7 linked regions of the Homo sapiens genome follow. The protein of the gene in region 1 purifies or fractionates together with the protein of each later gene. This does not show direct contact. Each region holds a gene or a part of one and is shown in the gene's direction. Other genes may lie near its edges. The genes, in order: STK32C, NUP210, ASPM, HAUS5, FAR1, SLC27A4 and IQSEC1.

Region 1 (4,033 bases):
AGCGCGACGAGGTCCGCAACGTCTTCCGGGAGCTGGAGATCCTGCAGGAGATCGAGCACGTCTTCCTGGTGAACCTCTGGTGAGCCTGCCATGGCCTCGCTGCAGAAAGACTTACCGTCCTGAAGCCGGGAAGGCACTGGCTATCCTCTCCTGCCCTTGGTGCTCCTTGGCCCTCGTGCCTCGGAGATGCCTCTGCCACCCACAGGCCCTCTCTAGCCCTCCTCATCTATCCCCCTTCCTGTGCCCCAGGCCTGGCAGTGGCCCAGGTGGCCATGACATGCTGGGGTTGGTTAATGCAGTGTCTCTTCTGAGCCTGCCGGAAGACCAGGGCTTCCCTACAATGGAGATGTGCTCCCATGGAGTCTCTGGCACTAGTCAGAGAGGGAGAGAGTTTAGGGACTGAAAAACTCACCACTGTCATCACCATCACCATCACCACCATCATCGCCATCACCACCACCATCACCACTGCAACCATCATCACTCTCATCACCGTCATCACTATAATCAACACAATCACTATTGTCACCACCATTACCACCACCACCACGACCACAATCACTGTTATCACCATCACCACCACCCTCAGTCCTCACTACCGTCATCCTCACCATCACCGTCACCACCACCACCATCACTGCCATCGTCAACACCATGGATGCTGGTTGTTAAATGCCAGCTCTTTGCCCAACACTGTCAAGAGTGGTACCTACACGGCCTCATTTTCTGTAACAACCCTCCGAGGCAAATGTCTGTATCCCCATTTTACCGAAGAGGAGGCCGGGCAGCCTGAAGCACCCGGAGCTGGCACTGTAGCTCTGCTCTGCATTTGCCACTCCCAGGTGCCTCTGGCCCCAGCTGGGCCACCTCCAGCACAGGGTGGTGTGTCTTTCCTCAGGATCTGGGCTCAGAGCTGCTCTGGGCTGGGGTGCAATCAGTGCCTTGGGCAGGCCCCTCCTCCTGGGAATGCCTGGTGGCTGATGCTGGGGTGGGGCTGTGGTCCTTAGGGGGAGTGTGTCAGCTGTGGGAGCAGCCATGACTGGCTCCCCAGCTGTGCGCACAACAGGCCTTCCATCGGTGCCCACAGGTACTCCTTCCAGGACGAGGAGGACATGTTCATGGTCGTGGACCTGCTACTGGGCGGGGACCTGCGCTACCACCTGCAGCAGAACGTGCAGTTCTCCGAGGACACGGTGAGGCTGTACATCTGCGAGATGGCACTGGCTCTGGACTACCTGCGCGGCCAGCACATCATCCACAGGTGTGTGCGTGGCAGACGGCGCAGGTACCTGCTGAGGTGGGCGGGGCTGAAGCAGCCTTAGGTCAGGCTGCCGGCACGGCGGCCGTACTCCCTCAGAGCGGGTCTAGCTCCTCTGCCCCACCCTTGCCTGAGTGCCTGCCCCCAGCTGTGGCACCTGTGCCGACCAGGTCAGCCCCATAGCTGTGTGCCTGGTGTCCATCTGGGGGGACCTCGTCCCAGCAGCCCCAGCTGAGACTGGGCACAGTGGGCTGTTAGCCCTGGTGGACAGACCACCAGGCTGGGTCACAGCAGGTGGCCTTCACCTGGTCCATTTAACTGAAGGCTCCTGTTTGCCCATCCACCACATCCCAGGGAATCCAAACTAATTTTAACATTAGCTTAAAGCAGATGAAATTAGGAAGCAGAGCTGGTGTGATGGCTCTGAAAATAAAATTTAAAAAAAGAAAATAGGAAGCAGATTATGAAGGAAGTGAAATTGGGAAGCAGAAATTAGGCTGAAATTCCGCAGCAATGGAACAAAATGAAAATATCTGTGAGGTATATTTTAAAGTCGAATGGACTGGTGTTTGCATTTCTGCTCTTGGGGACTCGGATGTCTGATTATGACCTAGGCACCAGTCACTGAGCACTGGCTGTGTACCTGGAAAAGTTGGGACAAAGCAAGAGCCGAGGTGGCTTGGTCTCCTAGAGGCCGAGTCTTGGAGGGGGAGGGCAGACCCTGCCAGCAATTGCTCTCGTCCTCTGGGGCTCCAGGCCCCCTCCCAGCATCTGGTGCCAGGTGTGTGCTGCTGCCCAGATGCCACAGGGAACGAAGTGGCTGACTTCATCGCCTCTGCCCCCACGCAGGGGTGTGAGGTCCTAGCATCATCCAAGGACCAAGTCAAGCTCCCAGGCCTCTGCCTCGAGTGGGTTGGTGGGATGTCCTGGGGACTCCAGGGATTGTGACAGAGATTCCAGGGCAGAAACAGGGCAGATTCCCAACTCACCTTCCCACTTTCTGCTCTTTCTAGAGATGTCAAGCCTGACAACATTCTCCTGGATGAGAGAGGTGTGTGGGGTTGGGTGTGGGCAGCCCAGGTGGGTGGTGGCAGGGATGGGCCTGTCAGGGGAGGAGGATCCTGCACGCAAGGATGCATCTCTGGTCCTGGGACAGCCACACCTGACCCCTCTCTGCACAGGACATGCACACCTGACCGACTTCAACATTGCCACCATCATCAAGGACGGGGAGCGGGCGACGGCATTAGCAGGCACCAAGCCGTACATGGGTGAGCCCGAGCTGGGGTTCCAGATGGGAGCTGGCTTCCTCCAGGTGGGAAGGACAAGACCTCGGTGGCTTCTCTGTCCCACCCTGGAGGCAGCCTGGTCTCGGGATGTGGCCTCAAGGTGCCGGCCCTGTGCCCACGGGTCCGGGCTGTGACCCCGTGGCAGCTGTTTTTCCTTCTTTCTGTCGGAAAGCTCCGGAGATCTTCCACTCTTTTGTCAACGGCGGGACCGGCTACTCCTTCGAGGTGGACTGGTGGTCGGTGGGGGTGATGGCCTATGAGCTGCTGCGAGGATGGGTATGGACCCCCTGCAGCCCCTGGGCTTGGCTGCCAGGCCCCTGCTCTCTGCCCCCACCAGTGCTGGGGAGGGGGTGGCTGCCCCAGTGTCCAGGTGCGCAGGGATGTCTCCACTGTGTCTGAGGAGTCACGCTTTTATCGAAGTGTGTAGTTGGTGATGGAATGCCTGAGCAGGAGGAGGAAGGACAGACTCACTGTGGTTTCCCGGGGCCGCTGCTGGTGCCTGCAGGCCAGCCTCTGTGGGGGTGGACAAGGCTGAGAACTGGCCAGCAGGGGTGCTGCCTCGGAACTTTCCACAAAAAGTTTCTTTTGGGGCCCTGTGCTCTTACCCTTGTGGCCACGGCGAGGCCAGTCCTGGAGACCGGGAGGCTGGGGGTCCTCTTGTGGACCGTACCCCTCAGCCCTGCACAGGACCCCACCTCTGAGGAAGCCAGCTCCCTCCTGGCCCTCTGGGGCTGATCTACCTGGACCCAGGCCCCCTGGGATCCCAGCCAGATGGGCGCAGCAGCCAGGGCGCAGGACCCAGGCGTAAGCTTTATCTCACCCAGGCTCCTCCGCGGCAGGTGGAGGCCAGGCTGTGCTCAGAGCTGTGCCTGCACTTGGGGTGGGGGGAGGGGGTCCTCTCAGGGCGATGGCACCTGTGTCTGGCATTGTTCTGGGTGTCCTGGGGGCCAGGAGGACCTGCCCAGCACTGCCTCCCTGTCTCCAGAGGCCCTATGACATCCACTCCAGCAACGCCGTGGAGTCCCTGGTGCAGCTGTTCAGCACCGTGAGCGTCCAGTATGTCCCCACGTGGTCCAAGGAGATGGTGGCCTTGCTGCGGAAGGTGAGCCCCCATCCCTGAGCCTCCTCACCCTCCGAGCACCCACCTCCCTCCCTCACTTACCTGCGGCTCGGGACACCCCCTCCAGTGCACAGTTAGTGCCGCTTCCTGGCAGGCACAGATCCCTTCACTGCAACCTGTGGGGGCCTCCGCAGATGGCAGCCCCAAGCCCCAGGAAGCGAGCTGGTGGCAGGCTCTGTGGCCCTCTCATGGCGAGCCCTACCAGGTCACTGGTGTCCTGGTGATCCCCTGAGCTGCGTCTCCAGGCACCCTCACAGCAGGCTTGTGCGCCCGCCCTGCCGGTCACCACAGAGGAGCCCTGAGCCACGTCCCCTTGTCCCACGTATTGGAAGGAGGGTGTCGGGTGGGTGGGTTCAAGCCCATGCT
Region 2 (4,033 bases), on another chromosome or scaffold:
ACAAATATAATTTGCCATAAATAGATTATGGTTGAGTCCTTTAATTGTACTTATTATATAATGTGATTGGCTTTTAACTCAGATGTGTATGTGGTGAAAGCTCTGAGCCTCACACCTGCTGTCTGTTGCTAAAAAGGAATTGATAAGGCAACGAAGGGATGGGGAGGGGCTGTGCTTTGGGGAAGGAGCTACAGAGGGCAGGGCCTGGCAGCAGCACCAGACCATTCCTGGGCAGGAGTCAGCTAAAGCTTCATGCCAGGATGGTCAGGAGATTCCAGGCAGGGAGTTGTGGGTCAGGGAGAGCAGGTGCTAGGGGCCACAGCCCTGTAGAGGGCGGGTGCAGCAGGGTAGGAGAGCTGATGGCTCCAGGTGGCTGGAGTCAGGAGCATGACCGGCACTGGGGCAGGCAGCGTGGCTGTCTCCTGAGGCTGCTGAGTGAGCCCCCATGGGGGTAGCGGCAGCCAGCGAGGAAGCTGGCCTGTCATCCAGGTGAGCTGGGCTTTGACTGGAGTGTCCAGCTATGGAAAGGGGGCTGACACCTGTGCTTCCTCTCCAGGCCTCTCAGGAACCTGGAGCTCCTCGGCCAACAGCATCCTCCACATCGACCCCAAGACGGGTGTGGCTGTGGCCCGGGCCGTGGGATCCGTGACGGTTTACTATGAGGTCGCTGGGCACCTGAGGACCTACAAGGAGGTGGGCTCTAAGCAGCCGGAGGCACATGTGGCTCAGTGGCCTGTGAGGCGGGCCTGACCTTCTGGGAGGATTATGAAGACTTTTCCTTTTAGGGAAAAGCCGTCTGAGGGGTTGGGTCTGGGAGTCATGAGTCTGGGACTGGCCACTTGCTGACTCTGACATGGGGACAAGCTCCCTTTTTTTTCCAGGCTTCAGTCTCCCCATGTTCAAGAGGGTGTGATGAGGACAGGCAGCCTTGTAGGGTGGATTCCAGCTCCCATGGGCTTGGGTCTGGCAACCCCGGAGTGGGCACTTCCTGGGAGCCGGTGCTTCCCTGTCACCTGCAAGGCTAAGACTCCCTGTGCAAGTCACCCTTTGAGTCTGGAGGCGACAAAACCTGCTGTCTCTTCCATTCATCTCCAGTTGAGAATGAATCAGTGGGGCAAGTCTGGCTGAGATCCAAATGCATCTCATTTTTAGAGGCAGCATGTGCTTTATGGAACCTAGCAGTTTAACCTAATTGTTTGCATATTTAGTGCTGCGGCTCTGCAGTTTGGGCGAGCCAGTTGCAGACAGAGGCATCCTGTGACAATACAGCTGTGCTCTCCTGGAAAGAGCCTCTGGTCAGGGGATGGGGTGGCATGGACAAAGGTGTGTAGGGTTCAAGGGCAGAGCCTCGGGGGCTGGAACAGAGGGTGTGGGAGAAGCATGGTCTGGCTTTGTGATCAGATCAGAAAATGCACCAGATTCCAGGCAGTTTGGTGCAGGTTGAGGGTGGGGCATCTACAGCTAGACGGTCTAGGTCAAATCCCAGCTTGGCCACTGCGAGGCTATGACTGAGCAATCATTGAGTCTCGCTATGTCCCGATTTTCTTGCCTGTATAATGGGGATGATAGCGTTGTGAGGATTTAGTGAGTTAGCACGTCAGAAGCCCCTAGGGTGGTGCTCAGCTCATAGCCAGTGCTCAGCAGAAATTAGCTGCTGCTGCTGCTGCTGTTCCAGGGTGAAGGGGTAGAAGCTTATGCCACACTCAGTGGAGTTTTTTAAACAGTGCTATAGACCAAGGCTGTGTTTGCAGAGGTTACCTGGCACCTGGAGGAGCTCGAGAGAGCAGTCGCTACAGGGTAACTGGCCAGAGACTGAGGCCAGGCCCTCAGCTGGGATCACTGGGTGTGGCAGAATCTAAAGGCAGGTTTGGGAGAGACGGGAGGGAGGGAGGCACATCAGAGCTCCATGAGCATCCAGAAGTGAGGCTGGAGGGGAGGAAGGGCTTGGGATGACCAGGCTGCTACTGGTCCTTTGCTGAGAGGGGCACACAGAGGTAGGTAGGCCTGCAGGGAGGTGAGGAGCCTGGGCCGGGGAGCTAGAGATGTCACAGCTCTCCCAGGTGAGGCAGGAGGCACACCTGGGTGGGTGCGGCAGGAGCACTGTGAGGAAGGCTGGACAGGGTGGGGGCCTCAGCCCAGAAGTGGCCTCTGAAGCCCTGGGAGTGGGTGGGAGTGCACGGGCACTCCAGGAGTGCAGGCAGGAGAGGGGCCAGGAAGCCTTGGGCACTCTCTGAGGGTGGACAGGGAGGAAGGGGAGAGGAGGGCCAGCGTTGGGGGGTCCCAGGCTAGAGAGTGGGACACAGCCTCTGTCAGTCCCTGGAGGTGGATGGTGGTAAGCCCTGAGCGGAGGCACCGTGAGTTTGACAGTGATGCCTGGTCACCTACAGCTCTGCATGGGCCACATCCCTGGGAGCTGCAGGGGCTTCAATCGCATCCCTGCTCTGAAGTTCACCTACTGGTAGAAATCAGATCTCCTGGAGGCAGGGAGCGCTGGTGCCTGCTGAGAGAGGGAGGGGGGCCTTCAGCTGCAGGAAGTGGCCTTGGGCCTGAAGGGTGGATGAGGCTGGGCTCTGCAGAGAAGATGGGAGGGTGTCCTAGCCAAGGGAGTGCAGGGAGGTCTCCAGCCTGGGGCTGTTTGGGTGTGGCCAGGTACAGGATGGGCACAGGGGGAACAGCTGGGAAAATCTGGGCAGACTGGATTCTGGGTGGGGTGTGGTGCTGTACTACAGAGAAGTGATCATGGCTGTCCGAACAGCCAAAATCCTCAGCCCACCCAGATCGATTAATGAATTCAGGCCCGCTGCTCAGCGTCCAGTCAGCTGCTGGGGGAAGCAGCTTGTTCAATGGGAGAACTGGGCTGTGAAGTCTGACCAGACTGGGCTCAAACCCCCTCTCTGCCACATTCTAGCAAGGCGTTTAGGCTTTGAGCCTCAGTGTTGCCACCTGTGAAACGGGTGACACTATGTCACAGACTGCAGGGTGAGGTTGTGGAAACGCCCAGCATGGACCGGGACACAGGCGGCGCTCCATGAAGCTTCCTTGGCTCCCTCTCTAGGTGGTGGTCAGCGTCCCTCAGAGGATCATGGCCCGTCACCTCCACCCCATCCAGACCAGCTTCCAGGAGGCTACAGCCTCCAAAGTGATTGTTGCCGTGGGAGACAGAAGCTCTAACCTGAGAGGTACTTAATGAGGGGCTTGGGCTGTCTTCAGAGTACCTGGGAGCGGGGAGGTGGCTTCCTGTGTCCTCTGGATGGAGTTTATCTGCTTCTCCTATTCACACTCACACCAACTCCAGAGAGGGCATTTAGCCCCCACTCATCCACTCCTTCCAGCGTTTCTGAAATTGGAGTCCTCCAAAAGCTGAGCCAGTGAAAGGAATCTTCATAATGGAGCCCAGCTCCCAGAAGGTGCCTGTTCTGCACTGGAAATGTGACTTCAGCCCGAGGGCACCCTAGCAAAGAAAGCCACAATTTCCCACCGTGAATCCCAGAAACTAATGAATTAGCAGGACTCGTCACTGGTTTTAATTTTTGTAATGACCTCTCCCAGGTCATGCATAGAATGTTGAACCCCATCCCCTGCCCATGACAGCCCTGAACAGCAGCTGCCAGAAATAAGTAAGTCAACAGGGCTGTTTTCTTAAACCACCTCACTGGCAGAGTGAAGCACCGCCCTTCTCGTCCTGATTAACGAGGCAGCTCTGTTCCATCATGGCAGCCTCTGCTCCTTCCTCAGCGCAAGTGGACAGCACTGTGCCGTTGCCTAAATGCTGCTCAGATGTTAGTGGAGAACTAGTGCCCTCTGAATGTGCAGAAGTAAATTGCCGTTTCCCCTGCTGACAGGGACAGAAGACAGGCATTAGTGGGCCTAGCCCGTCTGCCGTGCCCCTGGATGCAAGGTCTGGAACAAATGCTGAAATTCTGACTTGAAGCTCCCTGTGATGCCGATGGCATCCTCTTCCATATGATATGTCCTTGGCTTTACCAATCCTGGCTGCATCTCAAAGCTTTGAGCCGCCCTGGGGCCCTGCTGG
Region 3 (4,033 bases), on another chromosome or scaffold:
CATATACTGTATAGCGATCACATTAGGACAATTAGCATATTCATCATCTCAAACATTCTTCTCTGGACTTTTTTTTTTTTTTTTTTTTTTGGAGACAGGGTCTTGCTCTGTCGCCCAGGCTAGAGTACAGTGGTGCAAACACAGCTCACTGCAGCCTCAATCTCCTAGGCTCAAGCCATCATCCCACCTCAGCCTCCCAAGTAGCTGAGACTACAGGCATGTACCACCACACTCAACTAATTTTTGTATTTTTTGTGGAGATAGGGTCTCACTAAATTCCCCAGGCTGGTCTCGAACTCCTGGGCTCTAGTCATCCTCCTGCCTTGGCCTCCTAAAGTGCTAGGAATACAGGTGTGAGCTACTACACCTTGCCAGATTCTGTTTTTTAAATTTGTATAGGACTATTTATCTTTGATGAGTTTTGGCAGTTTCTAATTTTCGAAGAATTGGTCCATTTCATCCAAGTTGTTGAATTTACCATATGTATATACAAAGTATATCTTTAATATCCTTTTGATGCCTGGGTAGTCTGTAGTGATATTCCCTTTTTCATTCCTGATATTGATAATTTGTATCTTCTCTTTTCTTCTTTGTCAGTCTTGCTAGAGTTTTAACTCTCTTGATCTTTTCAGTGGACAACCCTTTGGCTTCATTGGTCTCTGCTCAGTCTTTATTATTTCTTGTTTTGATTAATTTTGCTTTTCTGTCTATAGTTTCTTTAAGTATAATCTTGAGTAACTGATTTGAGTCCTTCCACTTTTAATGTAACACATTAATGGTATAAATTTTCTTCTAAATACAGGTTTAGCCACATACTACAAATTTTGATATGGTATTTTTTTTTCATTCAGTTCAAATAGTTTTTAATTTCTCTTGAGGCTTTTTCTATGATTTAAAGTTTCAGAATATGTTATTTACTTTCTAAATGTTTGGAGATTTTCCTATTATTTTTCTGTTAGTGACTTTTTCTTCAATTCCATTATGACCAGAGCACATACTGTGATTTCAATTCTTTCCTATTTGATAACCTTTAGTTTATGATCCACAATATGGTCTATCATGGTCAGAGGTTGGTATATCTGCAGGCCAAATTTGGCCTACCATGTGTTTTTATAAATAGAGTTTTTTAGAATATGGTCACAACTATTTGTTTATGTATTATTTGGGAGCTGCTTTTGTACTACAATAGCATAATTGACTTGTTGCAACAGAATTGGCCCACAAAGCTGAGATATTTGCCATCTTGGCTGTCATCTCCATTCTGCTATTGTGCCATACCAGTGAATTTTTATTTTGGTTAGTGTGTTTTTCGGTTCTACTATTCTCACTTGGTTCTTACTCATATCTTTGATGTCTTTACTGAGACTTTTTATCTTTCCATTAGTTTCAACTTGTTGTAGCATTTTTACTTTATCTGCTCTAAAGTCGTTGTCAGTTAATTCCAATTCCAGTATCTTTGTCATCTCATCATTGGTGTCTATTGATTATCTTTTCTTGTGAGAGTTGAAATTTTTCTGTTATGTTGTATGTCAAATAATTTTTAATTGCATTCTGGAAATTTAATGTTATGTTATCAGACTCTATGTTTTGTTTAAATCCTATGGAGAATGTTGATATTTTAGTTTTAGCAGCTAATTCACTTGATTGGGTTCAGGCCACCTGTTCTCATCAGCCTTCCATGAGCGTAGCTTCAGTGACAGTTCCTTTTTGAAAGCCTTTACAGTGAGTGATATTTGTATCATATCAGTTTCATTATGTAACACCCAGTAGCCAGTCTGGGATCTAGATTGTGATCTGTATCTTATTCAATTCTTAAAGTCTATAGCCTACTGTGGTCTAGATTCACATTGTGCACAACTTGGTGGTGAACCTAGAAATTCATAAACAACATTATCAGATTGCTTCCCTGAGCTCCCCAGTCTCTACCATCTCCCTGGTACCCTCTAGTTCCTCAGGGCTGCCTTGTTTCATCATCTGACCAGAAAACTGAAGATTGAGTTACACTGCTCTACTGCATTCTTTCCATGACTGCGCCCATATCTCAAGCAGAGAAACTCTTTTGTATGAGGAAAAACAAAGTATGGCACAGGTTATAGTTACTGGGAGAGATGAAGAATTGGGCTGTTAATGCACTCAACCTGCTGCAGATATCTGTGGTAGAGTAGAAAGAACATTTGATTTTGGTGTAATAATGTAGATCCTAAGATCAATTATTTTTATTTGCTGTGGGACTTTGCAAAAAGTTTTGTAACATTAGTGTTCCTTTCTTTAAGTGAAGAAACAATGCCAACTTAATGTATTTTTGTGAGAATTAAGTGAGAAAATTGTATGTAATGTGTTCCTTAGTAAAAGCTATTTATTTTTAAGAATTGTATGACAATGGTGAAAAAATTGCTATTGTAATAAGCAAAACTGTTAGGAGAGGAGATGATCATATCTTCCATGTTATATATCAACATTGATTAACATTTCAGTAATGGAGTAGTAATAGTAATGTAGAAAAAGTGATTATTAAAGTATAAAACAATCTGTACACACTGATTCTTCAATTTCTTAGTTTGAGGATTTTACATAGAAATATCTGTTGGGGGTGGGTGCTCAAAAGAAAAATAATATCTGAATTTCTGAGTACTATTACTGCTTTACTTTGCCCTAATTTAAAGCAAGTTAATACTTTATGTAGAGTTTATTGTTTTCAAAATACTTTTGTACAAATAAGTTTGACTGTTGTTGGATAAATATTTTGACAACTTGTGCATCTCTTCTTGGTAAGATAAAATGTATACAATCATTTCCTGTCAGGTTGAAGAGTATGAACAAAACCTCAGGTAACATTTAGTAGAGGAAGAAGACAATAAAACTTACAGGAAAAGGGTCAGGAAAAGGGATGTGCATGTTCTCCTTAAGCTTCCTCACCCATGGATAGGTATGCTTAGGCCAGTGATAGCTGCAAGCAAACTCGATACTGCTATAGGAGAGCGAGGTACCCAGTCCCTATATTACTCTACTTATATGCGAGAAAAAGTAAGATGTAGTAGAGAACAACCTCTCCATGCCACCCCCAATCTCAGCAATGTTTGGAGTGTTTGTACAAAGGAATGGTCTTATTGCTAAAACATCTAGAACTTGACTACCATTAGCCTGGGACCATTTTAGATACCAGCAACTGGAATTAGCTTGAGAGTTTGTAGCTCTTTTTGTTGAGCCAACATACAGTTGGATTAGCCATTGTAACCATGGCTTTTCAAAAGACAAAAGTTTTGTCATTTCTCAAGTCTTTCTAGAATTCTACTTTTAAGCCATGTATTTATAGTTCCTAAATTTGGGAAAAGGAAGTAATTTTATTCTTAATGAAAATAATGACTCTGAGAGTGATCTGGTTTATTTATTCCTAAATTCCTATATTTATATTATCAGGCCTGTAATGTGATAATGCAGGATCCTTCACATAAACAGTTTCTAGTCATTATAAGGTAGCTTAGAAACATTGAAGTAAGGGGACCATATAAGGCCCAGAAATAAACTCATAGGAAATTACTTAGAATCAATAGATAGCAAAGAATATTACTATAGTTTTATTTTGACTCTTTTGCTTGTAATATAACATAAACTTGCTTATGTTTCTTATGATTCTGGCATACAAATGCAGTATTTAAATATAATGAAGATTTGGATGGATTTCTGAATTGGCTACAGGTATATCAATGTAAAACCTAAACTAAAAACAAAAGAGACAAATATCTCACAAAAATAATTAGTTTTCTAATTCAATGTGTTTATTTTTAAGCAGAATGTTAGAAAAATTAGTATTTTGAAAAGTGTTAAATATAGAAAGCTATGCCTATTTTACTTTGTGTCCTTTCTTACCTTTTCCAGGGATATTGGAGAAGATATTCCACTAGACAAAGATTTCTGAAATTGAAATATTATTCAATCATCCTGCAATCTAGGATAAGAATGATAATTGCTGTTACATCTTATAAACGATATCTTTGGGCTACAGTTACAATTCAGAGGCATTGGCGTGCTTATT
Region 4 (4,033 bases), on another chromosome or scaffold:
CTCTGCCCTGATCCCTTCTTGGGTTCCAGAATTCTGGAACCATTAGGATGGAATGTCCATGAGGCCAGGAGGTTTTGTCATCTCAGTCACCTGTATTTTCAGTGCCTAGAATGATACCACCTGTATACCTAGAACACCAGCCCTGGGGAAACAGCCACAAACAGAGAACATGTCCCTGCCCTCCTGGAGCTTATGCTGTGACACAGAGAAGACAGATAGTAAAGTAGGAACCAAACAGACCCTATCATTTCTGGTAGAGATGAGTGCTGTGAAGAAAAGCCTATCATAGAAGGGAGAGGGAGATGCTGCCCTAGCGAGGGTGGTCAGCGAAGGCCTCTGAGGAGGGGACATTGAGTTGGAAGAGGAATTTCTGTGGAGAAGGAATAGCAAGAGCAGAGGTGGTGTGCTCAGCATGCAGGAAGAGCAGCCCGGAGGCCAATGTCAGCTCAAGTTTCTCAGGCAAGACCGAGAACCTGAGGAGGTGAGGTCGAAGGAGTGGACAGAGAACTGTGGATGATGTGTTGCGATTTTACCCTGACACTGGTTCATGCCCTGGCTTGGCCACTTAAAATTGGGTGACCTAAGGCTGGGCATGGTGGCTCACACCTGTAATCCCAGCACTTTGGGAGGCCGAGGCAGGCGGATTACTTGAGGTCAGGAGTTCGAAACCAGCCTGGCCAACATAGTGAAACCCCGTCCCTACTAAAAAATACAAAAATTAGTCGAGTGTGGTGGCACGTGCCTGTAGTCCCAGCTACTCAGGAAGCTGAGGCAGGAGAATCACTTGAACCCAGGAAAAGGAGGTTGCAGTGAGCCTGGATTGCACCACTGCACTCCAGCCTGGGTGACAAGAGCAAAACTCTGTTTAAAAAAAAAAAAATTGGGTGACCTTGGGCAAGGTATTTAACTTCTTTCTATGTGCCTCAGATTCTAAGATCTGTGGAATGGGGATAATATTAATACCAAGCTTATAGGGTAGGCATGATCGTTAGGTGGAATAAATCATGTGAAGTGCTTAGAGAAGTGCCTGTTAACCATTGTTATTCTGGGTTTGGTTTTTTTGTTTTGTTTTGTTTTGTTTTTTTGAGACAGAGTCTGGCTCTGTTGCCCAGGCTGGAGTGCAGTGGCATGATCTTGGCTCACTGCAACCTCTGCCTCTGGGGTTCAAGCGATTCTCCTGCCTCAGCCTCCCCAGTAGCTGGGATTATAGGCGCATGCCACTGTGCTCGACTAATTTTTGTATTTTTAGTAGAGACGGGGTTTCACCATGTTGTCCAGGCTGGCCTTGAACTCCTGACCTCAAGTGATCCACCTACCTCAGCCTCCCAAAGCGCTGGGGTACAGGCATGAGCCACCACGCTGGGCCCATTGTTATTCTGAATGCGCTGGGGAAACATCACATTATTTTGGACAGATCTGAGCAGGGACATGATCTTCCTACAGTTTTAACAGAATCACTGACTTCTGGGTGGCAAACAGTCTCGTGGAGCAAAAGCAGTGGGGAGGCTAATGCAATATTCCAGCTGGGAGGTGACAGTGGCCTAATCTGGAGATGGCTCCCGAGATCTAGGCTTAGTGATTCCTCTGACCGGCCTTGCTGGCAGTGAGAGGAGATGGGGCACAGACATCTGTTCTCCCAGGGACCCCAGCCCCAGCTGCACTTCTCCCTCCAGGAAAGCCAAAGTAGATGTGACCTTTGGATCCCTCACGTCGGCAGCTCTGGGCCTGGAGCCCGTGGTCCTGGTAAGAGTCCTGGTCATGGGAGAAGGGGCAGGGAGCCTGGAGTCAGGCAGATGCTAGGGTCCCCCTCAGGTCCCTTCCTCCTCTTCTCCCTAGCGTGATGTCCGAACAGCCTGCACCCTCCGGGCCCAGTTCCTGCAGAACCTCCTGCTTCCCCAGGCCAAGAGGGGCAGCCTCCCGTGAGTGTCCCTAGCCCCCAGAGACCCTGTAAAGACCCTGGGTTTTAAGTGGGGGTCTCTTATTTATTAATTCCTCAGACACTGAGCTTCTGGGCTACGTTCTGTAGAAGGGGACTTCCAGGCTGGGAATAGAAGGAGACAGTCTCTCATCACAAACAGTGACAGCCAGGTGGTCAGGGCTGTTGCGGGAGTGAGGAGGCCTGAGAGGCTCTGGGCACCCAGAGGCAGTGCCTTTCCCAGCTAAGAAGGCAGGGAGGGGAGAGGTTCTCTGGTGAGGAGGCTTAGCTGGGGTGAAGGGTCCAGAGAGTGTCCCAGATGAACAACCCATGTAAAGGCCCCAAAGCCAGCAGGTTGGTATAATTGGGGAACTCAAGTCTAACAGGCATAGGGAAGATGACAGCCCCTACCTTATAGGGTGGTGGTGATAACTAGAGGATAATTGACGTGTCTTGTAACGTTCTCTGTCCGCTTACCCAACCCCACAGAACCCCTCATGATGACCACTTTGGCACTTCGTACCAGCAGTGGCTGAGCTCAGTGGAGGTGAGAGGGCAGGGCTCTCAGGAAAGCCACACCCTCCCGCTCCTTGATCAAAACTTAGGGTGCCAGGACCTAACTCTTGATGACAGCCCTATTCCCATGGGGTCTCAGCTCACAGCCCTGCCCCGATCCTGCCCTGACTTCACCCTCCCTCCCCCTAGACGCTGCTGACAAACCACCCCCCAGGCCACGTCCTGGCTGCCTTGGAGCACCTGGCTGCAGAGCGGGAGGCAGAGATTCGGTCCCTGTGCAGTGGGGATGGGCTTGGCGACACAGAGATATCCAGGTGTGGGGCAGGGTATTCTCACAGTTGGGGAAGGCCATGTGAGTGGGTGAGCTGGGACAGCCTCAGGACCCCTGGCCCAGCCACCTGCTGATGGGGTAGAACTGAAACCCACTGCCTGGTGGGGTGGCAGGACTGATACTGTCCACCCTCGAGTACCAAGGCAAGGCCGCAGCACGGCTCCCTCAGCAGCTCTTCCCCCACCCCAGACCCCAGGCCCCGGACCAGTCAGACTCCAGCCAGACCCTGCCGTCCATGGTTCATCTCATCCAGGTGACCCCAGGGCTCGCCTCCCCACCACATTCCAAGACTTCCTTAATCCCCTCACCCATGGATCATGCCCTGGGTGTACCCTGATTCTGTACCCCGCTTGCAGGAGGGCTGGCGGACTGTGGGTGTGCTGGTCTCCCAGCGGAGCACCCTCCTGAAGGAGCGGCAAGTCTTGACCCAGCGCCTCCAGGGCCTGGTGGAGGAGGTGGAGAGACGCGTCCTGGGATCCAGTGAGAGGTGGGGGGCTCTCCGAGAAGAGGTCTCTAGGCCATCTCGCTTCTGAGTGTCTCAGCCCATTGGACTTTTTCAGCCTCTGTGGCTCCTATCTCTGCCTCCTCTCCCTGCAGTGTCTCTCCCTGGTTTATGGTCCCTTGTGTGGCTCAGTCACCCTTCTCTCCTTTGCTCTCCTCCACTTGCCCTGCAGGCAGGTGCTGATACTGGGGCTTCGGCGCTGTTGCCTGTGGACGGAGCTCAAGGCCCTGCACGATCAGAGCCAGGAGCTGCAGGATGCAGCTGGGCATCGGCAGCTCCTGCTGAGGGAGCTACAGGCCAAACAGCAGCGGATCCTGCACTGGCGCCAGCTGGTGGTGAGAGGCTAGGCCCAGGGCCTTGTGGAGGGCCAGAGGGGAGGCTTGAAAACTATGGCTAAGAACTGGGCCTGAGCCCTGTGTGGTAGCACATGCCTGTGGTTCCAGCACTTTGGGAGGCTGAGGTGGGAGGATCTGAGCCCAGGAGTTCAAGGCTGAAGTGAGGTATGATCACACCACTGCACTCCAGCCTGGGTGACAGAGCAAGATGCTATCACTTAAAAAAAAAGAATGCTGTCACTTAAAAATTAAGAACTGGGCCTCCTAGGCAAGAGCCCAGGTGAGACTCCCAGGCAGAAGCAGGACCTAAGCAGAGAGGCACACTGAGGCTGGGAGCTGGGAGGAGTGGGTCTCAGGGTATCCTGGTTCCTCAGGAGGAGACCCAGGAACAGGTCCGCCTGCTCATCAAGGGAAACTCGGCCAGCAAGACCCGC
Region 5 (4,033 bases), on another chromosome or scaffold:
GGATTCAGAGTTTATTTCTAAATGTATTGAATTGTGTTATCAGAAGTGCTTAGCTAATGATACTTTTTTGATTTTTTTCTCCTTATTTCTAATGTAATTTCCCTCCATGCCCCTCCCATTTCTAAAACCCCTAATTTTGAGACTGTCTAAACTACATGATACATATAATCCTAATCGTTATTATAATATAAATGAAATCTTTAAAAAGTACTTCTCCAAAAATTCTTTTTCTGTTCACAGAAGTGGGGATTTTTTTGGTGTTTGTTTTGTTTCAGAAAGTTCTTTCTTCCCTTTCCCTACTTATAATAAATATTATTGTATAGATGTTACTGCTCAAGTTAGTGTTATGATATCAATGACTTACAGTGAGCCATGATATATAAAATGACAGATTTAAAGATTAAAGCTCCTTGTACTTTTAAAAACAAAGAATCACAGTCTTTCTTTAAAGACACACTTTAAAAAGAGTGTCACACTCCTTTATTTCTGTAAGGATGAGTATTGGTGGGGTATGGAGAGGTGAGTGGATATCTATTTCAGATAGTTTTCAGCATGAGTCATTGATTTCACAGCACATCCAGATGATCAAGAGTGGTGCCAATCATTGTTAAAGAAAAGTTGTTTTGTTTTTTTAAATGAATAGAGTTGACTATGTGGCAAACGAATATTTCTGTATTGTTTGCTTCAGCAGTGCTGAAGAGTTGGAATTATAAATATAACACAGTATGTTATTAATTCACAGGAAATCTTAGCAAATGCAGCTGTGAATTAAAATGTAGTTTAAGGAATAGAAAGCAAGGAAATATTAATTGAATCCATTCATTTGCTTAGTATTTTATGTAGAAAATTTAAGAGTATTGTATACCCTTTGAGAATTAATTCTGTATATCAGCAGAACTCTGTTTAGGTGGTATTAAATGCATTTGCTGCTGCTTTCAAAAAAAATTTGTTTTCCTTTTGGATTTATAAATTGTTCATCCAAGATGCAGAAATAGTCTTATTCCCTGCTGATTTGGTACACTTAATGATTAAATGTTATAATTTTAATACTAATGTCTATATTATAGGGGGAAACTTGCACCCTGGGTGGTGATAGGATTTTTCCTAATCTATACAAAATATGAATCTGTCCATTTTTCTTACAATACAGGATGATGAAAACAATAACTCGTCTTCACAAAGCTATGGTGTTTCTTGAATATTTCACAAGTAATTCTTGGGTTTGGAATACTGAGAATGTCAATATGTTAATGAATCAACTAAACCCTGAAGATAAAAAGGCAAGCAAGTATTTTCTGTTTTATATTAGAAAATAAGTAGCATACTAATTACAGAACTATTAGCAACCTGAGAAATATTTTCCACAGCTATTATGCAACAAGTAAGCCATTATTTATAGTCTCTCATAAAGCTTTAGTCATAATTGTTAGTGGTGAAATAAAATTGCTGTATCTTAACATTTCTAGTGTAAGTATTTTAGAGTGGCAAAGGTATTTTCAAAGCATGATTGAAATGTTGATTCTTTTTTTCCCTTAATGTTGGTTTCAGAGAGAATTTTATCTTTATGTGTTTTTCTTTCAAACACTTTGTTTTCTCTTGAGTTTTGAGAAAAAGCTTCTCTAAGAAATTGTTTTTTATAAACTCTTTTACTTTTTGTTATTCCACATTTTGCCCTTTGTTACTTTGGAACTTAAATTCTTTGTGTATGTTCTTTTTGAGCTTACTCTAGATGTTTTAACATGTATATCTAACACAGACTAAGTTAAGCAATATTTATAGCCTCCTTCTTAATAATAATAATATTTAGAACCTTAAAATGTTTTAGTTGTGATTACCACTCCCACTCACTTAAAATGGTTGTATTAATACATTACTTCAGTTCTCTAATTTTTTTTTTCTTTTTCTTTTTTTTTGAGATAGAGTTTCGTTCTGTGCCCAGGCTGGAGTGCAATGGCACAATCTTGGCTCACTGCAACCTCTGCCTCCCGGGTTCAAGCGATTCTCCTGCCTCAGCCTCCCAAGTAGCTGGGATTACAGGCACATACCACCACACCCAGCTAATTTTTGTATTTTTAGTAGAGACGGGGTTTCACCATGTTAGCCAAGCTGCTGGTCTGGAACTCCTGACCTCAGGTGATCTGCCCACCTCAGCCTCCCCAAGTGCTGGGATTACAGGCGTGAGCCATCACACCCGGCACAGTTCTCTATTTAAACCCCATGTTGAGATACTCTTTTGTTCATTTAGTTTTTATTTAGATTTCTCCCTCTCTCTCTCTCTCTATATATATATATATATATAAAATATGTATATATGTATACCAATATCTGTGCTTTCAGATTTTCTCCTTATGATCTTCTTTCTGCCTGAAATATATTCAGCATACCTAGAATATGTTTTACTTGGGAATCTGTTTTGTAGTGAATTCTGAGTTTTTGATTGTCTGATATGTGTGTTGTTTCACCCTTGGTTTTGGAACATGATTTCAGCACGTTAAAGAACTTTTTTGCTGGTCATAGTAGCTCATGCCTGTATCCCAATACTTTGGAGGCTGAGGTGGAAGAATGGCTCGAGGCCAGGAGTTCAAGACCAGCCTGGGCAATGTAGCGAGACCCATCTCCACAAAAATAAGAAAAAATCAGACAGGCATGGTGACATGTGCCTGTAGTCCTAGCTACTCAGGAGGCTGAGGTGGGAGGATCAGTTGAGCCCGGGAGGTCAAGGCTGCAGTGAGATGTGATCACGTCATTGCACTCCAGCTTGAACAATAGAGTGAGAGTCTCTCAAAAAAAAAAAAAAAAAAAAACCCCAAAAAAAAACTTTTTTATTTATATTCTGTCTTACATTTTTGCTGTTGAAAAGTCGGTAGTTGGCTCTTCCTTTATAGGTGATATGTTATTCCTGGCTCGTCTTCCATTTTCTCTTTATGTTTGCCGCTTGGCAGTATCACTATGATAGTGGGTGTAATTTTGAAAAATTTACCTAGATTGCATTGGGCTTTCTGAATCTGAGGTTTGGTGTCTTTAAGCAATTCAGAGAAATACTTAGCCAGTGTTTCTTCAAATATTGCCTCTTCACTATTCTTATATCGTCTTCCAAAATTCCTAGTGTATGTTAGATTATTCTGTTCTCCAAATCTTTTAACGTTAATTTCATATTTTGTATCTCAGTGTTTCTGGGCTAAACTCTAGATAATTTAAGATTCTGTGACAGTCTGCCAGCTGTGTCTAAACTATCCAATTGAATTTAGAGTTTTATTGTTTTATTTTCAGTTTTAGAAAGTATAATTTTTCAGATCTTATAAATGTTTCTTAAACAGTCTCTAGAATTTTTTCTTGAAACATATTAAATATAATTGTTTTTCATTCTGCTTCTGATAATTTAAACTTGCAGATGATTTGCAGCATCTGATTCTGCCATCTATTACTTGAGCTAGGTCTCACCCATGGCACCTAATTTTTTTAAAAAATATTTGTTTGACTATAAATTTATATTCTTTGAGGATTTCTGTGAGAATTTTTTTGAAGCCGGGATTGAAATTGCAGTTTTCTGATAAGGATTTGCCTTTGCTTCTACCAGTAGCCTAGTTAATTAGCTAGCTGGCATTTATAAGCCAGGGCCCCTTTAAAATATCTGATTAGGTTTTTAGCACAACTCAGATTAATGTAGGCCTTAAATAGACAGTAGGGGCCGGGCGTGGTGGCTCACACCTGTAATCCCAGCACTTTGGGAGGCCAGTGCTGGGATAACTTGAGCTCAGGAGTTCGAGACCAGCCTGGGCAACAAAGTGAGACCCTCTCTCTACAGAAAAAAAAAAGAAAAATTAGCCAGGCGTGGTGGCGCATGCCTGTAGTCCCAACTACTTGGGAGGCTGAGGTGGGAGGATGGATTGAGCCTAGGAGGCAGAGGTTGCAGGGAGCCGAGATTGTGTCACTGCACTCCAGCCTGGGTGACAGAACGAGACTCCGCCTCAAAAAAAAAAAAAAAAAAAAGACTGTAGATTTGGGTCATTACAGTTTCTCAAGAGTTTCTTTT
Region 6 (4,033 bases), on another chromosome or scaffold:
CCTGGTGTACTATGGATTCCGCATGCGGCCCAACGACATCGTCTATGACTGCCTCCCCCTCTACCACTCAGCAGGTAACTCTAGGGCTGTCACACAGCCTCCAGCACCTGCCAGGTCTCTAGGAACCCCACCCCCATCAGGCAGTGTGCTGCAGTAGAAACACACAGCTTTGGGCCAGGCGCAGTGACTCACACCTGTAATCCCAGCACTTTGGGAGGCCAAGGTGGGCGGATCACTTGAGGCCAGGAGTTCGAGACCAGCCTGGCCAACATGGCAAAACCCCATCTCTACTAAAAATACAAAAATTAGGCTGGGTGTGGTGGCTCACACCTGTAATCCCAGCACTTTGAGAGGCCAAGGTGGGCGGATCACTTGAGGCCAGGAGTTCGAGACCATCCTGGCTAACACGGTGAAACCCCGTCTCTACTAAAAGTACAAAAAATTAGCCAGGTGTGGTGGCTCATGCCTGTAGGCCCAGCTACTCGGGAGGGTGAGGCAGGAGAATGGCGTGAACCCGGGAGGTGGAGCTTGCAGTGAGCCAAGATCGTGCCACTGCACTCCAGCCTGGGCAACAGTACAAGACTCTGTCTCGGAAAAAAAAAAAAGAAAGAAATTATCTGGGTGTGGTGGCGTGTGCCTGTAGTCCCAGCTATCTGTGAGGCTGAGGCACGAGAATTGCTTGAACCTGGGAGGCAAAGGTTGCAGTGAGCTGAGATCACGCCACTGCATTCCAGCCTGGGCAACAGAGCGAGACACTGTCTCAAAAAAAAAAAAAATTAGCTGGGTCTGGTGGCGTGTGCCTGTAATCCCAGCTACCTGTGAGGCTGAGGCATGAGAATTGCTTGAACCTGGGAGGCAAAGGTTGCAGTGAGCTGAGATCACGCCACTGCACTCCAGCCTGGGCAACAGAGCGAGACACTGTCTCAAAAAAAATAAAAATAGGCTGGGCGCAGTGGCTCACGCCTGTAATCCCAACACTTTGGGAGGTGAGTGGATCACGAGGTCAGGAGTTCGAGACCAGCCTGGTTAACATGGTGAAACCCTGTCTCTACTAAAAGTACAAAAAGTAGCTGGGCTTGGTGGCGGGTGCCTGTAATCCCAGCTACCCAGGAGGCTGAGGCAGGAGAATGGTTTGAACCCAGGAGGCAAAGGTTGCAGTGAGCCTAGATCGTGCCATTGCACATCAGCCTGGGTGACAGGGCAAGACTCTGTCTCAAAATAAATAAATAAATTAATTTAATTTAATTTAAAAATAAAAATAAACAGGATTAGCCAGGCGTGGTGCACATGCCTATGGTCTCAGCTACTGGGAAGGCTGAGACAGGAGAATCACTTGAGCCTGGGAGTTTAAGGCCAGCCTGGGCAACATGGTGAGACCTGTCTCTAAAAAAAATTTTGTTTTAGGCCAGGTGTGGTGGCTCACGCCTGTAATCCCAACACTTTGGGAGGCCGAGGCGGGCGGATCACGAGGTCAGGAGATCAAGACCATCCTGGCTAACACGATGAAACCCCATCTCTACTAAAAATACAAAAAAAAAAAAAAATTAGCCGGGCGTGGTGGCGGGCGCCTGTAGTCCCAGCTACTCGGGAGGATGATGCAGGAGAATGGCATGAACCCGGAAGGCGGAGCTTGCAGTGAGCCGAGATGGCATCACTGTACTCCAGGCTGGGCGACAGAGCGAGACTCCGTCTCAAAAAAAAAAAAAAAAGTTGTTTTAAATTGAAAAAAGGATGAGCACACCAGCCTCACAGTGTGTGTGGCAGTGTCCCACGGGGCATCTGGGCCTGTCTCATTTCAGTTTGTTTCCACAGATATGCATGGCATTGCTGCTTGTTTGTAGGGGCTTAAGGGAAGACAGCTTGAATAAATATAGCTCCTGCCCTCCAGGTGCTTAGAGTCGGGTGTATATGTGAGTGTAGGAGAGAGGCAGGGAGCAAGAGGGCAGCACCAGGGAAGAGCCTGGTGATGGAAGCCGGGGAGGCTTCTTGGAGGAGGTCACCCAAGGCAGGCAGATGTGAGGTGCAGAAGCCTGCAGGGCAGCACAAGCCTGCCTGGCTGGATGGCAGTATCACTGATTTGGGGCCGGGGAGGGTCTTCATCTCGCTGACCCTCAGGGGCCATCCCTCTGCCTCCAGGAAACATCGTGGGAATCGGCCAGTGCCTGCTGCATGGCATGACGGTGGTGATTCGGAAGAAGTTCTCAGCCTCCCGGTTCTGGGACGATTGTATCAAGTACAACTGCACGGTGAGCGAGAGCGGGAAGGGTGAGCTGTCCCTTTCCCCTAGTTACCCTCTTCCCAACTACACTCCGGGGCATCTGTCTTATAGCTGAGGTGGCCAGTCATTCCAAAGGGCTCATTTGTGGCAAAGTTCCCATTGTTCAGATGGGAAGGCTGAGACCCGGAGAGGGAAAGGATGGCATGGCCAGCCCCTGGGGAGAGTAGGGGCTTGAGGGATCAGGAGAATCCTAGTGTAGTGAGGGCAGCCTCTGGAGCCTCGAATCACACCAAGTTCACCCCCAGATTGTGCAGTACATTGGTGAACTGTGCCGCTACCTCCTGAACCAGCCACCGCGGGAGGCAGAAAACCAGCACCAGGTTCGCATGGCACTAGGCAATGGCCTCCGGCAGTCCATCTGGACCAACTTTTCCAGCCGCTTCCACATACCCCAGGTGGCTGAGTTCTACGGGGCCACAGAGTGCAACTGTAGCCTGGGCAACTTCGACAGCCAGGTGCGGCCAGGTTGGGGATGGGCGAGGCTGCTGCAGGGATGGCCCACAGAAGGCACTGGATGCAGAGGGGAGGGCAGAGTTCGAGCGTGAGAGTGTGGGTGCTGGAGTCCCACTTCCCCCTCATTGTCCAGTTTTGGGCCCATGGTGAGAGAGCCCAGGCCCAAGTCTTGGCCTTCGCAGGTGGGGGCCTGTGGTTTCAATAGCCGCATCCTGTCCTTCGTGTACCCCATCCGGTTGGTACGTGTCAACGAGGACACCATGGAGCTGATCCGGGGGCCCGACGGCGTCTGCATTCCCTGCCAGCCAGGTCTGCCACTTCGGGGTCAGAGAGGGAGGGGTTGGCCTGGGAAGGAAGGAGGCCAGGCGCGTGTGGATGGGGAGCCTTGTTCTGACCAGTGGCCATCAGTTATCTCTGCTCTTAGGGTTACAAGTTACTCATTTATTTGTGTATCCATCCATTCATTCATTCATTCGCCATTCTATCTGTACATCAGTCCATTCATTCATTCTTTTTTTTTTTTTTATTTGAGACGGAGTCTCGCTCTGTCGCCCAGGCTGGAGTGCAGTGGCGGGATCTCGGCTCACTGCAAGCTCCGCCTCCCGGGTTCACGCCATTCTCCTGCCTCAGCCTCCCAAGTAGCTGGGACTACAGGCGCCCGCCACTACGCCCGGCTAATTTTTTGTATTTTTAGTAGAGACGGGGTTTCACCGTTTTAGCCGGGATGGTCTCGATCTCCTGACCTCGTGATCCGCCCGCCTCGGCCTCCCAAAGTGCTGGGATTACAGGCGTGAGCCACCGCGCCCGGCCAAGCAATTCTCTTTTCTCACCCTCCTGAGTAGCTGGAATTACAGGCAAACCCCACCATGCCCGGCTAGTTTTTCTATTTTCAATAGAGATGGGGTTTCACCATGTTGTCCAGGTTGGTCTCGAACTCCTGACTTCAAGTGATCCATCCACCTCGGCCTCCCAAAATGTTGGTATTACAGATGTGAGCCACCATGCCCGGCCCTCATTCATTCATTTTCATATTGACTCCAAATGACCCTGAGTCCAGGCTGCTTGAGATTTATTCTGGCTCAGCTCCTTAGCTCTGTGTCATGGGCGAGTATTCAGCCTCACTGTGCCTAAGTCCCCTTATCTACAAACTGTGCCCATGGCAGCACCCACACATGGGGCTGGCCTGAGGATTATGTTTCATAAAGAACATAAAACTCTGAGTGGGTCCCGGCATGGAGCAGAGGCTTGGGGCGCTGGCTTTGTTAGGCTGTCCCCAAGGAGCCTGACTTATGTTCATCCTCC
Region 7 (3,477 bases), on another chromosome or scaffold:
ATGACTCTCAGCTGTGCTCTTGTCGCTTCTGTGTTGTGGTGACACCATGCGCTCCCCAGGGCCAGACCTGCACGCGGCAGGTCTGTGCCCGAGTCACCCACGGGCCATACTTTGTAGTTTCAGCCTTTCGAGCCACTGCAGCCGTCAGTGCTGTGCTCCTAAGCCATGGGACCCGAGGACTGCCCCCCGGCGCCTGCCCAGGCGGAGGCCCTTTCAGAAAGGGCGAAGCTCACGCCTGACTCTGCGGGCCGCGGGGCCGCGTTCCCAGTGGACAGCGTGGTGAGCCGTGGCCGGACGGCAGGAGGAGAGGGGAGCCCCCTCTGGCTGTGTGTCACCTTGGCTGGCTGGCTGGCCAGGGTTTTGCCGATTTCCCTCCTCACATCCCTCCCACCCTCGGTCATATCATTGAGATCACCGTACCAGCAAATCTGCAAACCAAGCACTTTGTTAATCTCCAGAGAGAGCAAATACAGCAATCTAGAGTTTAGCCTTTTTAAAAATGTGACTTTAACCCGCCCACCTGTGTCCTCCCATTGGCGTGGCATTTCTTTGGTGTCTGCTCAGAAAGAAACAGCATGGGACCGTGTGATTGGGTCCAGGCTGGGCTGTCAGGGAAGCGCCCTGGTGTCTCCGACTCATCAATTCTCGGGTCTTTTTTAAAAGCCAGGCTCCCCAAAGCACTCTGTCTCGCAATTTTGAGGAGGCTGTTCCGACCTGGAAGCGTTAAACTGCTGCATGTCATCTGGCGTCAGCTGTGAGGCTGCGCTCTGCGTGTTGTGCGTTTGCAAAATGTATTGGCGTGACTGTAAACACATCGTTGAAGTAAAGCGATTACATATTGAGTATGTCAGCTTTTCTCACCCTCTTCTGTGCTGGGAGGAGAGTCTAACTGTAACCTTTAGGTTGTTCCAGAAAAGATTCAGGCCGTTTGGCACAGAATTGCTCTTTCTGAAGGGTAGCAGTAATGAATAGGAACAGACAGAAAACCCCAGGAGGGGCTTTCAGGAAACTCTCCCTCTCCATCGCCATCCTGCAAGCTCCACAGCCTCGGGCTGCCAGCCTGTGGCACTGTCCTCGGTGTGTCCTGGAGCTGTGCTGGGCAGCAGGGCCTCGCGTAAGGAACTGCTGGAACCCACTGAGCCCTTCCCGGGGTTTCCCGCCGCACTCAGTGTGTTCCTTCAGGCTAGTGAGGTTTCATTCTGTTTTATTTGCAAGCTTATCAAAAGTTTGTGGAAGATACATTGTTGGGTTCCAGAGGCTGGAGTCATGCTGCCCACATCTTGTTTGGGAAAGCAAAAGCTCCCAGTGAGCTGGTGTCCCCGTGTGTCTTTCATGGGACTGTCCCCTTTAGAGATCCCACCTGTCAGAGCCACAGCTTCGGGGTCCTGTCATCACATCCCCTGGGAGGGGAGGCAGGAGGAGGCCGAGGGCCCCAGGATGTCTGCCTGGTCCCTTCTCACTGTGAGGACGCCCTTGGCACACCTTTCTCAAGTCACACAAATTACTGCAGTTACATACAGAATTGCTGACAGGAGCAGGAGACGCTGAGGGAAACAGCTGGCAATGTGACAAAAGTCTTTTCTGGGACAACAATCAAATCATGTATTTGTATTTTTTTAAGTTTACCAATGAATTGTACAACAATGTAAAAATAAAGTTCATCCTAATATGCTGTGCACATCTTGCTTAAAAATGTCTTCAGCACCCAGTGCAGTGATCTTTCCCTCACACACTGCATGCAGCAGGAGCCTCTTGTTTTTCTTAATGAGCTGAAAAGACAGCAGATGTTCACAGCTGATGCTGGGTGTTGACTCAGCGCCACGGGAAGCTCTGTGCCCGCAGGTAAGCACGCACAGTCTTACAGTTCTCCTTGTAAAATATCATCACCCTTCCTGCCTGAGAAACGAGTACATTTGTATTTTATGTAACAACAATAGTCAAGGCAGCATTGCAACACTGAGCAGGGTGAGGTGGGGGTGCTGAGCACAGGACAAGAGGGAGGAGGCCTGCCCTCCATTCAGATGCATCTGCATCGCCCTTCTGTGTGCAGTCACATCGAGACTGCACACAGCATGCATCTCCTCTTGGAAAATATCTTTTGCCTCCGAGTTGTTTTAAGCAATTAGAATCAGGTCCTGAATCCCCAGACTGTTCAGAGACTTCAAGGGACACCTCCCTCACAAGAAGCCTGGCACCCCCACTGTGTACCTTTGAGAGGAAAGGAGTGCGTTTGTTTTCATCTGCATTCTGTTTGTCAGTGGCAACAGACTCTATCAATGTAAAACCATGGTTGTGATCATGTGGGGAAATCAAATAAATCCTTTGAAACTCTCGGATTCTCACTTTTTCTGAAAAGTCCAGAAGTTGCCCTGTTGGCCAGACCCAGATCTCCAGCTGATGAGTTTCCCCATTACTTGTTGTGACTCTGGGCACTCACTTTCCTTGAAGACATTGGACTGACTGAGGACACTGATACAAAATTTAAAATAAAGGGACACATCACAACCAATAGAAGGTTTCAAAGGTATTTATAATTTCTAGCAACTTTCAACAAGTGATGGTCCTTTCATGGAGTTAGAGGGGATGAATTCTATTAAGCGTTGAGGTACACTGATTATGACTTAGGGAAAAAAATACCCAGTGGCCCAGTCCCCAGTAAAGATGGATGATGACAGGAGTTCAGAGCAGCCTGCGTTTCCATGTTGGCTCATATCATGTACAAAAGCCAAGATGGTAAAGTCATTCTCCTGGAAGGAAGGGGCCTGTGAGGATGTAATTGGCTTCTGCGATTTCTCCTTTCCTGGCCAAACATAATTCCTGAGAACACCACTTTAAACTTTCAGTGCATGGGATAAAAGGAACTGGCAGATCTAACTAGTGGAAAACCAAACAAAAAAAAGTTAATTTTGGTGACCAAAATGAACTCTGGCCCTCCCTCCGTACAGCACATTCTGATTGAAAGATGTTCTCACAGGGGCCCCCTCTTCCAGTCTCATTCATAGCCACTACTGGCTCATCTAGACTGAAACCAGGAAACCAGCCATTTCAGTGCACACACACAAGTGCCTTGCACAATGCCTGTTTCTGCAACTGGGCGTCCATCCCTTTTACAGACTATTCAGGGGCCCTTCAAGAGAAGCTGGGTACAAAAATTCCCTGAAATACCCGGTTCTGCCTCAGGGTTTGATTTTTACTACGCAGATCTACAGCCCAGGAGCTGCTGGAGGTAGGTGAGCTAGGCCAGGGCTCCGAGGCGGTGATCTTCTGGGGATTGTGTTTGTCTCCCCCTGCCCTGAGATTGTGAGCTGCATGATCCGCCTGTGTGTGTCCAGTGACAGCCCCAGGACTGGGCTTGTCGGCATGCATCTATCTGAAAATTAATGGATGGCTGGAAGAGGCAGGGGTTCAGGTCACACCACCAGCAGCAGCTGGTGTTTGAGAATACCGATCACTGACATAATTAAAAAACGTATGGAA

What was found.
Region 2: the proteins of STK32C (region 1) and NUP210 purify together in Homo sapiens (affinity purification with mass spectrometry; one large-scale study listed by BioGRID and IntAct). This does not show direct contact.
Region 3: the proteins of STK32C (region 1) and ASPM purify together in Homo sapiens (affinity purification with mass spectrometry; one large-scale study listed by BioGRID and IntAct). This does not show direct contact.
Region 4: the proteins of STK32C (region 1) and HAUS5 purify together in Homo sapiens (affinity purification with mass spectrometry; one large-scale study listed by BioGRID and IntAct). This does not show direct contact.
Region 5: the proteins of STK32C (region 1) and FAR1 purify together in Homo sapiens (affinity purification with mass spectrometry; one large-scale study listed by BioGRID and IntAct). This does not show direct contact.
Region 6: the proteins of STK32C (region 1) and SLC27A4 purify together in Homo sapiens (affinity purification with mass spectrometry; one large-scale study listed by BioGRID and IntAct). This does not show direct contact.
Region 7: the proteins of STK32C (region 1) and IQSEC1 purify together in Homo sapiens (affinity purification with mass spectrometry; one large-scale study listed by BioGRID and IntAct). This does not show direct contact.

The regions. Positions count from the first base shown.
Region 1 is NC_000010.11:132,224,023-132,228,055, reverse strand, and holds part of STK32C (serine/threonine-protein kinase 32C), read left to right. Parts: coding exon 1-79; intron 80-1,087; coding exon 1,088-1,261; intron 1,262-2,271; coding exon 2,272-2,309; intron 2,310-2,439; coding exon 2,440-2,529; intron 2,530-2,719; coding exon 2,720-2,823; intron 2,824-3,532; coding exon 3,533-3,649; intron 3,650-4,033.
Region 2 is NC_000003.12:13,322,455-13,326,487, reverse strand, and holds part of NUP210 (nuclear pore membrane glycoprotein 210 precursor), read left to right. Parts: intron 1-556; coding exon 557-693; intron 694-3,055; coding exon 3,056-3,179; intron 3,180-4,033. UniProt on the Homo sapiens protein: Nucleoporin essential for nuclear pore assembly and fusion, nuclear pore spacing, as well as structural integrity.
Region 3 is NC_000001.11:197,105,029-197,109,061, reverse strand, and holds part of ASPM (abnormal spindle-like microcephaly-associated protein), read left to right. Parts: intron 1-3,876; coding exon 3,877-4,033. UniProt on the Homo sapiens protein: Involved in mitotic spindle regulation and coordination of mitotic processes.
Region 4 is NC_000019.10:35,615,451-35,619,483, forward strand, and holds part of HAUS5 (HAUS augmin-like complex subunit 5), read left to right. Parts: intron 1-1,673; coding exon 1,674-1,743; intron 1,744-1,836; coding exon 1,837-1,919; intron 1,920-2,404; coding exon 2,405-2,462; intron 2,463-2,620; coding exon 2,621-2,745; intron 2,746-2,951; coding exon 2,952-3,015; intron 3,016-3,118; coding exon 3,119-3,249; intron 3,250-3,436; coding exon 3,437-3,599; intron 3,600-3,973; coding exon 3,974-4,033.
Region 5 is NC_000011.10:13,720,580-13,724,612, forward strand, and holds part of FAR1 (fatty acyl-CoA reductase 1), read left to right. Parts: exon of another isoform or gene 1-115; intron 116-1,150; coding exon 1,151-1,280; intron 1,281-4,033. UniProt on the Homo sapiens protein: Catalyzes the reduction of saturated and unsaturated C16 or C18 fatty acyl-CoA to fatty alcohols. It plays an essential role in the production of ether lipids/plasmalogens which synthesis requires fatty alcohols.
Region 6 is NC_000009.12:128,350,502-128,354,534, forward strand, and holds part of SLC27A4 (long-chain fatty acid transport protein 4), read left to right. Parts: coding exon 1-74; intron 75-2,136; coding exon 2,137-2,246; intron 2,247-2,523; coding exon 2,524-2,733; intron 2,734-2,913; coding exon 2,914-3,040; intron 3,041-4,033. UniProt on the Homo sapiens protein: Mediates the levels of long-chain fatty acids (LCFA) in the cell by facilitating their transport across cell membranes. Appears to be the principal fatty acid transporter in small intestinal enterocytes.
Region 7 is NC_000003.12:12,896,075-12,899,551, reverse strand, and holds the end of IQSEC1 (IQ motif and SEC7 domain-containing protein 1), read left to right. Parts: 3' UTR 1-117; coding exon of another isoform or gene 118-162; 3' UTR 163-2,509; downstream 2,510-3,477. UniProt on the Homo sapiens protein: Guanine nucleotide exchange factor for ARF1 and ARF6. Guanine nucleotide exchange factor activity is enhanced by lipid binding. Accelerates GTP binding by ARFs of all three classes.